Linked DNA regions of Homo sapiens: all the other regions are reported to be linked to region 2. Evidence: microRNA targets listed by miRTarBase, many of them from high-throughput screens and not tested one by one. Region 2 holds a microRNA gene; each other region holds the end of a gene's coding sequence.
The links. The annotated mature microRNA hsa-miR-7106-5p reads UGGGAGGAGGGGAUCUUGGG and lies in region 2 at 1,232-1,251, shown strand. An mRNA with a match to its seed (bases 2 to 7 or 8) in the 3' UTR can be bound and repressed. Matches are read on the target gene's strand: a 7mer-m8 pairs with bases 2 to 8, a 7mer-A1 pairs with bases 2 to 7 and ends in A, and an 8mer does both.

Region 1: the mRNA of ZNF503 is a reported target of hsa-miR-7106-5p. Seed matches in the 3' UTR shown: 7mer-A1 at 2,250-2,256.
Region 3: miRTarBase lists TULP1 as a target of hsa-miR-7106-5p. Seed matches in the 3' UTR shown: 7mer-m8 at 2,533-2,539.

Annotation. Positions count from the first base shown.
Region 1 is chr10:75,396,050-75,399,384 of GRCh38, forward strand. It overlaps ZNF503 (zinc finger protein 503), which reads right to left. Exons shown (of 2, transcript NM_032772.6): 2 at 1,781-3,335. The coding sequence ends at 2,700. LOC124902461 reads left to right here. Exons shown (of 1, transcript XM_047426122.1): 1 at 1-2,208. The coding sequence starts at 107. The coding sequence ends at 1,072. Among named protein-coding and RNA genes, the nearest start is that of ZNF503-AS2, 3.8 kb to the right of the region's middle.
Region 2 is chr12:113,157,069-113,160,403 of GRCh38, reverse strand. It overlaps MIR7106 (microRNA 7106), which reads left to right and starts at 1,227; the gene lies at 1,227-1,291. It overlaps CFAP73 (cilia and flagella associated protein 73), which reads right to left. Exons shown (of 8, transcript NM_001144872.3): 7 at 2,714-2,802; 8 at 1,128-1,703. The coding sequence ends at 2,725. DDX54 (DEAD-box helicase 54) reads left to right here. Exons shown (of 20, transcript NM_024072.4): 20 at 1,295-3,231. The coding sequence ends at 1,527.
Region 3 is chr6:35,495,515-35,498,514 of GRCh38, forward strand. It overlaps TULP1 (TUB like protein 1), which reads right to left. Exons shown (of 15, transcript NM_003322.6): 15 at 2,360-2,946. The coding sequence ends at 2,813. It overlaps TEAD3 (TEA domain transcription factor 3), which reads right to left and starts at 1,565. Exons shown (of 13, transcript NM_003214.4): 1 at 1,384-1,565. LOC124901309 (a long non-coding RNA gene) reads left to right here and starts at 2,619. Exons shown (of 2, transcript XR_007059561.1): 1 at 2,619-2,693. RefSeq lists enhancers at 1-594, 1,541-2,471, 2,472-3,000 and silencers at 1,373-1,422, 1,603-1,732, 1,743-2,072.

The sequences.
Region 1 (3,335 bases), not on the chromosome of region 2:
AGTGGTAGACGCCTGGCTTTCAGGTCCTGAGCTGCGGGCACCGGAGCGTGGGACCCCGGCTGCAGCACCGCCACGCGCTCCCGCCCTCCCACCTGCAGGGCGGGGGATGTCTGTCCAAGAGGCCGGGGCGACAAGCCCGCCGGCCAGGATTCTCAAGGAACCAGGCCCAGCTCAGCCTCTCTCGGCGGGACCAGAGTGGGACCGGGGCCGCGGCGTCCGAAGACGCTGCGGGCCAGGGGTCCTCCTCGGCGCCAGCTCCGTTTCCTGGGGTCTCGCGACGTCCGGACATCAGGGTCGGGGGTGTGGAGACGGCGGCGGAGCCAGAGTCCCCACCAAGTCAGTTCCAGGAGGCGGCCCGCGCGCTTCCCGCAGTGTCCGGGAGGTCGCTGGGGGTGGCTTTGCGTGCAACCCGGGTAAAGGCCCTGCAGCCGTGAGGCTGGCGCTGGGAGGAGGGTGGAAAATCTCAAAGTCACCAATCCCGGTGCAAATGGCGGCAGGGGCCGCGGGCTGTCGGACGCAGGCGAGAGGCCAAAGGCTGACTTCGCGCGGCCGTGAGTCCCCAGAGGCAACAGGGGTACCTGAGCGCCGAGGGGATCCCGAGACTCGGAGAAACCGGAAGAGCCTGACCCCAGGGAGCGGAGAGTTTGGGGTGCGCTCTCAGAGCTGTGACTCCACGGTCCCGGAATCCTTGGAAAGGGCGCTCTGGGCTCAGAGCTCCCAACTAGCCGGAGGACCTGGGCTAGCGCCCAGGCCTGGAGCGTCTGGGAGGGGGCGCTGGGTCTCGGCCCCCCTCCCCCCAAAAGGGACTGAGACTTTTTTCTGCGTGCTTCCTTCGGCGCTTCGGGCAGCTCTGTCCTGCGGCCCAAGCTGGGGAGAAGACAGCGGCCCGCGCCACAGGGAGCTGCGCCCGGACCCAGACTCCCGCCGCGCTTCTGCAGAGCGGAGCCCTAGGTGCCCACCTGGTAGCCCCAGAAAGGCCGGACCTGGGCGCCGGGACGCTCGCGGGGCCGCACTTGGAGGGGCTTTCCGGGTCCTGGCCGGGCGGGCTCTCCTGCGGCGCGGAATGGAATAGAGCGCCGGCTGCAGAGCCACCCGGACGGGGAAAAGCAGCGGTGGCGCCGGCCAGCCCCGGGTCCCGACTCTGGAGGGAGGAAGGAGCGGGCGGGTGGGGGTGGGGGTGAGGGCGAGGGTTGCGGGGAGCGTTTAGAAGGCCCTGGGCAGCCAGAAGAAGAAAAGAGGACGCACTCTCCCCTAGGGACCAGAGGGTCCCTGCGTACTCCCCCCAGGCCCGGGACACAGGTTCCCCCAGCGCCCCTCCGCCTCCCAGTCTATTCGGCTTGCCCCAGCGCGCTGCCCCACGTCCCCGAGGCCCCGGCCCAGGCCCAGCCGGCGAGTCCCGGCCTGCTCCACTCTGCACAAAACGAAACCCAAATGCCCAAAAAGCTCAGGAGGGAAATTTAACAAAAACCCTGTCCCCCGCCCCACACCCCCTTTCACTTTTAACAAGCCAGCTGCCAAGAGAAAATTGAAATAAAAACGAAATGATAGATAGCGGAGGACACTATTTTCCAAATGGTGAAATATCCTCTAAAAATATGTTCCCCAAGGCCAACTTCGCGGCTGGTAGCCCCTTCCGACGCCTTTGCCTCCCAGAAAATCACAACAAAGCGATCGGAAATTCAGCCACGGTCCCGGGAAGAAGGAGTAGCAGTGAGGCCCCGGAACCCACTGCGGCCGAAACTGCCATGCTCTCTTTAACCAAAATAAAAAAGATAAGAAGAAGAAGTAAAACCCTTTAATACATCAAATATACGGAATTTTAATCTTTAAAGCGATACATTGTCTATTATTTTAGTACATGACGTAAACCTTGTCCCCTTCTCAGCGGGTGGACTTAAAAATTAAAAATAGTTAAGTGTTCCTTTTAAAGAACAAAATAAGGCAAATGAGGTTTTGGAATAGAATTTTTTCTTTTTCTTTTTTTTTTTGTTGTTTTCTTCCAGAATACATACAAAAAAATACCCATTCTCTTCGATGGTATACACCTTAAAAATAATTGCAATTTGAAATCAGAGCTGACAAATTGTGACTTTTTTTTTCATTTTTTTTGTAACAAACATGCATGTAAATTTGTGTTTCAATCAGACATTAAATAACGTACAATACAATCATAGCAATTTTAAAGTAACATTAAAGAGAAGACCTCTAGTTCTGTGGCGGTTTTGCTTTTATTTATAATCTACAAGGGATGGGAGGGTTTGTTTTCCACATTTTTACCCTCAAGTTTTAAAATTTTTCCCACCTCCTTTTTACCTACAGAGCTCAAACTAAATAATGCACTTTTGAACCACCGGTCCGCTTGGAGCTAACATAAATAAATACCAGTGTCCACCGATGCAGTCCTCAGATGAACACTTTCTCAATTATTTTTTCCTTTTTTTTTCTATAAAAAGTCAAATGATATTTTTTCAACTTTTATAAAGTTTGGGTGGGGAGGTGAAAGTGGGGAGAAGGGGAGTGTCCCACCGGGTCTCGGTCGCTGCTGTCGGGTAGATAGATACGGTATACATTTCTTTCCTTTCGTGGCCCGAGTCCTCCCCACGCGCGGGTGTCAGCAGCCTGGGCCGTGATCCCGCCTCTCCCTGGACTCCTCCCCTCCCCCTCTCCCTCCTCTCCCTCGCTCGCCCTCCCGGCCGCCCTCACTGATACCCCAGCGCCGAGGCGGTGGTCAGTCTCTGTCCGTAGAGGGCGTAGGGGGAGTAGTACGGTCCGGTGGCGGCGGGCACCGGCACGGGGGCGCCAGGCGTGGGAAGCGGGCTCTTGGAGTAGGGGTGGTAGCGGCTGCTGAGTCCCAGCGCGTGGTGGGGGCTGCGCAGCGCCAGCGTCCCAGGGCTGCCCGGTGCGCCCGAGGTGGGGATGTGCATGTGGCAAGCCATGGCGGCCGCGGCAGCGCTGGCCAGAGACGACGAGCTGGGGTAGCCCGACAGCAGTTTGTCTGTCCCGGGAAATGCCGTATGGGTCCGCAAGTGGCTCAGCAGCTCTTCGGACGTGGCGAAGCGCTTGTCGCACGGCCCGTTGGCCGACACCCAGTTGCAGATGTGGGGGAGTGGGTCGTTAGGGAGCATAAAGCCGTAGGGGTAGAGGGGGTGGCCGGCCAGGGAGGGCGGTGTGGCGCCAGCAGCCGCGGCGGCCGTTAGCGAGGAGTGCACACCGTGCAGCGGGTGCGTGGGGTACACCAGCGGGTATCCGGACTTCAGCGCCGCAGCCGCAGCAGCCGGATCATGTGCGCAAGAAGCGCTGGCGGCCGCCGCCCCTGCCAGGTGGCTAGCGCAGTG
Region 2 (3,335 bases):
TATGACTGAACCTGGGTCACCCAGCTGCCCAAGGCTCCCACCTGGAGTCTTCCCTGGGGAGAGGGGAGTTTGGGACCATGTCTTGGGTCTCTCTCAGATGGCCTTAGCCCCTGCTTGTGTCCCTCCACCTCCTGGGGCTGGTCACTGCCTCCCCTGGGTGTCTCTGTGAGCCTGCGTGCATTTGCCTGGGCCTGTTCTCTGTGGCTCCTCCCTCTCCAGCTCTCCCATCTGTGGGAGTGTCTCCTTGTCAGCATGGCTGGGTGGGGACCACCCACACCTCACTTCTCAGCCTGTTTTTACCTAGGTGAAACAGCAGCTTCTGCTGCGAGCATTGCCGTGCAGTGGGCGTGCAGGGGCTGGGGAGACGGGGGCGACCTGTGGGCTTTGGGAAAAAGCAGCTGTTCTTCCTTTGCTGTCCTCATTGGAGGTGATAGGTCCTGCGAGGCACCCTGGCTCCATTGGAGACAGCTGGGACCACCTTAATGGTCATCCCTCTAGGAGCCCTGGGGAGGCTGCTGTTATGAATGGGGAAGAGGAGGAGGAGGACACAGGGCTTAGTGGGAGCCAGGGAGGGTGGTGCTTGCCTCCCGGAGAACTAGAAGAATGGACTACCTGATGCCCACCTGTGGGGCTGGGGCAGGGTCGCTGACCTCTGCTGCTGCTGCTGCTTTGCTGTGTGATCTCAGATAAGTCCCTCTCCCTCTCTGGCCTTCTTTGATTCCTCTCCCACCTAAAGGAAGGTTCATCTACACTCTTTTTTCATCTAACAAGCCTAGAGCATGGTGTCCATGGAGACAGAGGCTGAGGTCTGTATCGGTTACTATGGGGGGCCTCAGAGCCTGGCGTGCCGTAGGTGTGCTGTGGAGACATACACTCCTTGGTTGGAGAATTTTTAATAGTAACAGTCATGCCCAAAAGGCTCCCACTATGGGACAGGCCTTGAAATTCTGACCACTTTACACCATGGAAATGCATTTACTCTTCACCCATGAGGGAGGTGCTGTGATTTATAATTCATAGATGGGGAAACTGAGGCACAGAGCCGTTAACTTCTTGCCCACGGTCCAAGAGGTCACAGCTGGGATTTGAACCCCAGCGGTTCTGGCCCCGTGTTATTGACCACTCCATGAGGCTGCCTAAAACTTTATTAGCCACCTACTGTGTACAGACACTGGGCCACAGCAATAAGCACAGAACAGGAGTAGGGGCAGGGGAGGAGTCTGCAAGCTTCTGGGAGGAGGGGATCTTGGGAGTGATCCCAACAGCTGAGCTCCCTGAATCCCTGTCCCAGCAGGTGCATCCCGGCCCCACGCCCCAGGCACCCCTGCAGGCCGAGTCCGCCCGGAACTCAAGACCAAGCAGCAGATCCTGAAGCAGCGGCGCCGGGCCCAGAAGCTGCACTTCCTGCAGCGTGGTGGCCTCAAGCAGCTCTCTGCCCGCAACCGCCGCCGCGTCCAGGAGCTGCAGCAGGGCGCCTTCGGCCGGGGTGCCCGCTCCAAGAAGGGCAAGATGCGGAAGAGGATGTGAGGACCAGGACCCAGCCCCGTGGCTCCTTGATTGGCCTTAGGGTGGGCATCAGCAGACGTTCCCGTGCACCACTGTGTGCCTGGCCCTGTGCTGGGCACTGGGGGCACTCCCTGCAGGAGCCATCATCTGTGAAAAGGAGCACTGTATGGCCACAGAAGGGCAGCAGCTGCGTCAGCCTAAGACAGAGACATTTGAACAGGGCCTTGAAGGGTGTGCAGGAGTTCGCCAGCAAAGCCAGGCAGGCCAAGACTTGAGTTGGCAACTCAGCTGCTGCTGCTTCCATGTGTTCTGGGTTCAGAGGTCATGGCTGCACCGGTCAGAGCCCTGAGTGCCTCAGGGTTTGGCAATGGAATTTTTAATGTAATAAATCTTTATTGAGCACTGCTGGTGGCCAGGAGTGCGGTCTACTTGGGGAACTGGAATGGAGAGACCCAGGTACTAAAATCCCAGCTAACGTGGCAGAGGAGTTGCGGGTCTCCTGAGGGTGAGTTCTGCTGCCTTGTCCATTTAGCGATGAGGAAAGTGAAGCTCAGAGCACAAACCAGGTGCCAGAGGCGGGAGTTGGTCCCCCTTCCTCCCACTGGACATGGTTGCAGCTGGGAGTGGGCTGGGGGAGGGGAACAGGATGCCCAGCCCAGGGGGCAAGGACACAGCTGCTCCCCTCTGGCTATGAAGAGGTTAACGCGGCCCCTCCACACCTGGAGGTCAGAACCTGGCCTGTCCTCTGTCTTCTTGCCACCCACCCCCTGTTTGAGGTTCTGAGAAGGTCAAGGGCAGCCCCAGCAGCTGGATTCTCAGGCTGGGCCCCTCACCTGGCAGAGTCCATAGTGGAGGGGGCCTTGGTGATCTCTCATCTAGCATGGACCCTGTTCTGAGACCTGACAAAGAGTTTTTTTTCATGCCCCAACCACCCTGGCAGGGAGGGCCTGGTCTGATCTCATTTTAGAGGCAGTTGCCCCACACATAGCCCCTTGACCTTCCCATCACCTCCTCATCAGGGCCTGCATTTATGGAGTGCTTGCTATGTGCCCCTCATGGCAGGCCCACAGCACTCTGAACAGGCACAGCCCTCCCATCTTCCCAATGAGGAAACGGATTCAGGAAGAGCCACTCAGTCCACACCCCATTGGAAATGTGGGCCCTCCTATCTCAGGGTCTCTCAGGGGTTCCCTCTCCCGCTGCTCACCTGTGTCAGGGCTAGGAGGCAGGGGCTGCAGGCTCAGCCTGACCCAGGCCGGCCAGCATGGCAGAGAGGTCCTGCATGAACAGCTTCACCTGGGGGGGCCCAGCACGAAGTCACATCCCAGCCCCAGAGTCACTGTCCAGCCCCCACCCCTCAACACGCGGGGGAGGCCGAAAGGTAGGGCGGGGACTGGAGATCCCCTCATTAAAAGAACAGTGATGATGGTGGTTCCCAGAGGTGGTGACTGAGATCCTAAACCGTTCTGGGTTTTGAAAGCCTCAGGCCAACCTTCCCAACTGCTGCGTGAGCAGACACCTTCACAGCTTCCTCGCTGCTGTCACCTGCACTATCCAATTAGTATTTTCATTTACATCAATCAGCTTTATTTTCTTGTAACTGGATCAGTCATATTCATTGGTTTGTGACCTACTCTTATCTCCGTGGGTGGCTCTCCTTTTGTTTTAATTAACTTCTTTATGAATATGAACTTAATAAATACCATGGATCCATTGTAAAAACTAGAACTTGAGGGTGAACTTACAACCATCTGTGGGCTCCCCCTCATATTCATCACCGTATCAACAGCTGAGAAGGAAACTTTTTATCTCCACCAAAAATGGAAAAA
Region 3 (3,000 bases), not on the chromosome of region 2:
TTACTGGACAGCCTTGTCCTGGAAGATCTGTGCACTCTGCCCACTGGGTGAGCAGGGACCCAGAAGACCACAGAACCACATCCTTTAGGGAGTGCCCCTACGAGAGGGGTCTTGGTGGGAGGGGGGCTACAGGAGTCTAGAAGGGAGAGGACATAATTCCCCCAAATCTCCAACTTTTGAGGAAAGCCTCCCCTCCTTGCCCCAGGTGGCCCCAGCACTGGGGTGGAACATGTGTACAGAGAACCAGGCCACAAGAGACTGGATACGCAGAGCCGCTATGGGCACCAGCCCCTCTGAGCTGTGTCCAGCCCCTACCCCTATGCCCTGTTCTTCCGGACAACAAGTCCAGGCCTGACCTGGTTCTGCCCCTACCTGGAAAGAGGGAAGACACAGAAGAAGACAGCCCCTGAGAAGTCCGCCCCAAGGCCTCCTTCCCCCTCGCACTGAAAGAATCTCTCAGCCCTGGATCAGGGCCCCTCACCAGGAAAGTTGACAGAGCGGGGTCTCAATGACACTGCCCCAGGGCCCAGCTGGGCTGGAAAACAGATCCAGACCAGCGCTCCCAGCCCTCCCTCCCCTAGCAGGAATAAAGGGCATGACAGACAATGGTGGGGACCGGGGTAGGAAGCGGGAGACCAGCCACCCTCAAACCTTGTCAAGTCTAAACAAGGGCCCTGAGCAAGTGTGGGGAAGAAAAGGCCCCAAATCCAGACCCCTCCGAGCCAAGCTCACAGCGCTCAGGGCTGGAACTCTGAATCAGCACCCCGACGCAGGCGGCAGAACTGAAGGGAACGTGAGCCCCTCCCTGCCTCTCAGGGGACACACGGCCGGGGCGCGCGGCTTTGGTCCCAGACACCCTCCACAACCCAGCGCAGCCGCGGCACCGCGCGCAGAAACCGGCCTGGGCGCTGGGAGGCCGGGCCCGAGGCCTGCGTGGAGCTGAGGCCGGGCGGGCTCCGGGAGCGCGCGGGCCGGGAGTCCAAAGGGCGGCGGGGCCCGGGACTGGGCGCCCCGGATATGAGCTCCAGGGTGGCAGGCAGGCCCTCCACACTGTGCGGCCCCCGGATCCCCGCCCCGACCCCCCAAGCACGGACGGCGGGACAGGCGACGGCACAGGGGACACGGTCTCCCCGGCTTCCCCACCTTCCCGGACCAACTCGTCCCCGTCGCGGGGGGGTGGGGAGGGCGGGGGGCGGGGCTTCCCGGAGAGATTTTCCCCCTTCCCTCTAAACTTCCCGGCACCCCGATCCGGGGCTCCAGCTCCGGCTGGACAATAGCTCGGGGACCCAGTCCCCCTCGAGTGTCGCCCCCCCAGCCAGCCCAGCCGACCAACCAAACCACCTCTCCCGAGCGGGGCCTCCTCCCGGCGTCCGCCCGGCTTACCTGGTCCGAGCTCGCGGGGGCGCTCCGGCCGGGCCGCTCCGCCGGGCCCGAGGGAGCCGCAAGGGGGGCCGGGGAAGGGGGGTCGTGGGGAGGGGGCTGGCCGGAATGTGCGGAATGAGCCGGGCTGGAGCGGGAGGCGCCGAGCGCGGAGGAGGGAGCGAGCGGGACGGAAAGTTTGTGTTGAGGAGCCGGGGCGGGGGTGGGGGCTGCGGGAAGGAGGGGGCGGGGCGCGCAGGGGGCGGTGCTGGCCGGGAGGGGCGGGGCCGTCCAGCCGCGCTCGGGCCGCCTACCCCGCGGCCTCGCGACCCGGCCACCCCGGCTGGCGCGCGCCTGGGCGCCCCGCTCCTCGCCCGCCCGTGCGGAGCTGCCTTCCTCCCCCTGCGCTCCGGGCCTCGCCCCGCTCCCGGGCACCCGCCGGAATTTGGGGCTCCGGCCTGGGGCGGGGCCGAGGGCGGAGCCCTCGCCTCGCGGGCAGGGCTCCCGTCGGTGCCGGGGGCCGTGGGTGCCGCGTCACGAGGAGCCCGGCAGAGCCGGAGCGCACGGGCCCCGGGGCTCCCGGCCCCTCCACCCTAGTCCCGAGCCGCCAAGGCGGAGCGTACCCTCCAGCTCGCGGGCCTGCCCCCCACTCCCGGGGCCCCAGACCCGGCTCCGCCCTGGCGGCTGCGCCCGCCCTGCCGGGACCCGGTTTGTCTGGTTCTCCCCGCGTGGCTAGTTTCTCGAATTTCTTCTCCCTTTCTCCCTCTTCCCCGACCTCCGGGACCCTCCCTTTCGCCCCGGCTCCCCGGGCCCCCACGGGGGGCGTCTCGACGCTGTGCGGCCGCCGAGTTTCGGTAGGACCCGCGACGGGCGCGGGGAGGGGACGCGGGAGCGCCCGGGGCCTGGGCAGGAGTGGGACGGGGGTTGAGACTTCCAGCTCGCGCCTCGGACGCCTCCTGCCGCCTCGTTCTCCGCACGCGCTGAGGAACCACCGCTCCGCTTGGCCAAGGACGCGGCTTTATTGGGGATGTGGGTGCCTGGCCCTCGTCCCCCATCACCTACCCCCTCCTCCTAGCCCGCCCCAGCTCCTCGGAGCCCTAGCGCGGTCCCGGGGAGAGGGGAGGTTAAAACAACAATGACTACTGCTCCCGGACAGGAAGTGACTGGGGCGCGGGGAGGAGGGGGGCACAGCGGCGCAGGCGAGCTCCGAGACCAGATGTGCGGCTCCAACTCCAGATGTTCTTCATCTCCGTCCTACCCGCCGTCCGGGCTCCTCCTGCCTCGGCCTGTGCCAGGCTGGGGAGAGGACGGAGGTCACCGAGAGGCAGTGAGAGGTCAGCCCCGACACAGGAGCAGTTTTCCGCGGGAGCTTTGCTGGAGGGACCCTGCCAGCCTCCACTGAATCCTTTCCCCCACGCTGACGGGCTCTGGGGGCGCTGAGGGGCTGCTGGGGTCACTCGCAGGCCAGCTTCCCGTCGAAACTGGAGAGGGCGATGGCGAAGGCCTGCAGGGCGCACAGCGGGTACCGGTAGTCTAGGGTGAAGGCGTCCTCCGCCACGCGGCCGAACTGCAGCACGATATAGTCGGCTATGGACACAAGACGGGGTGGGGGCGGCCCGAGACCTCCTTGGACCCCCATCC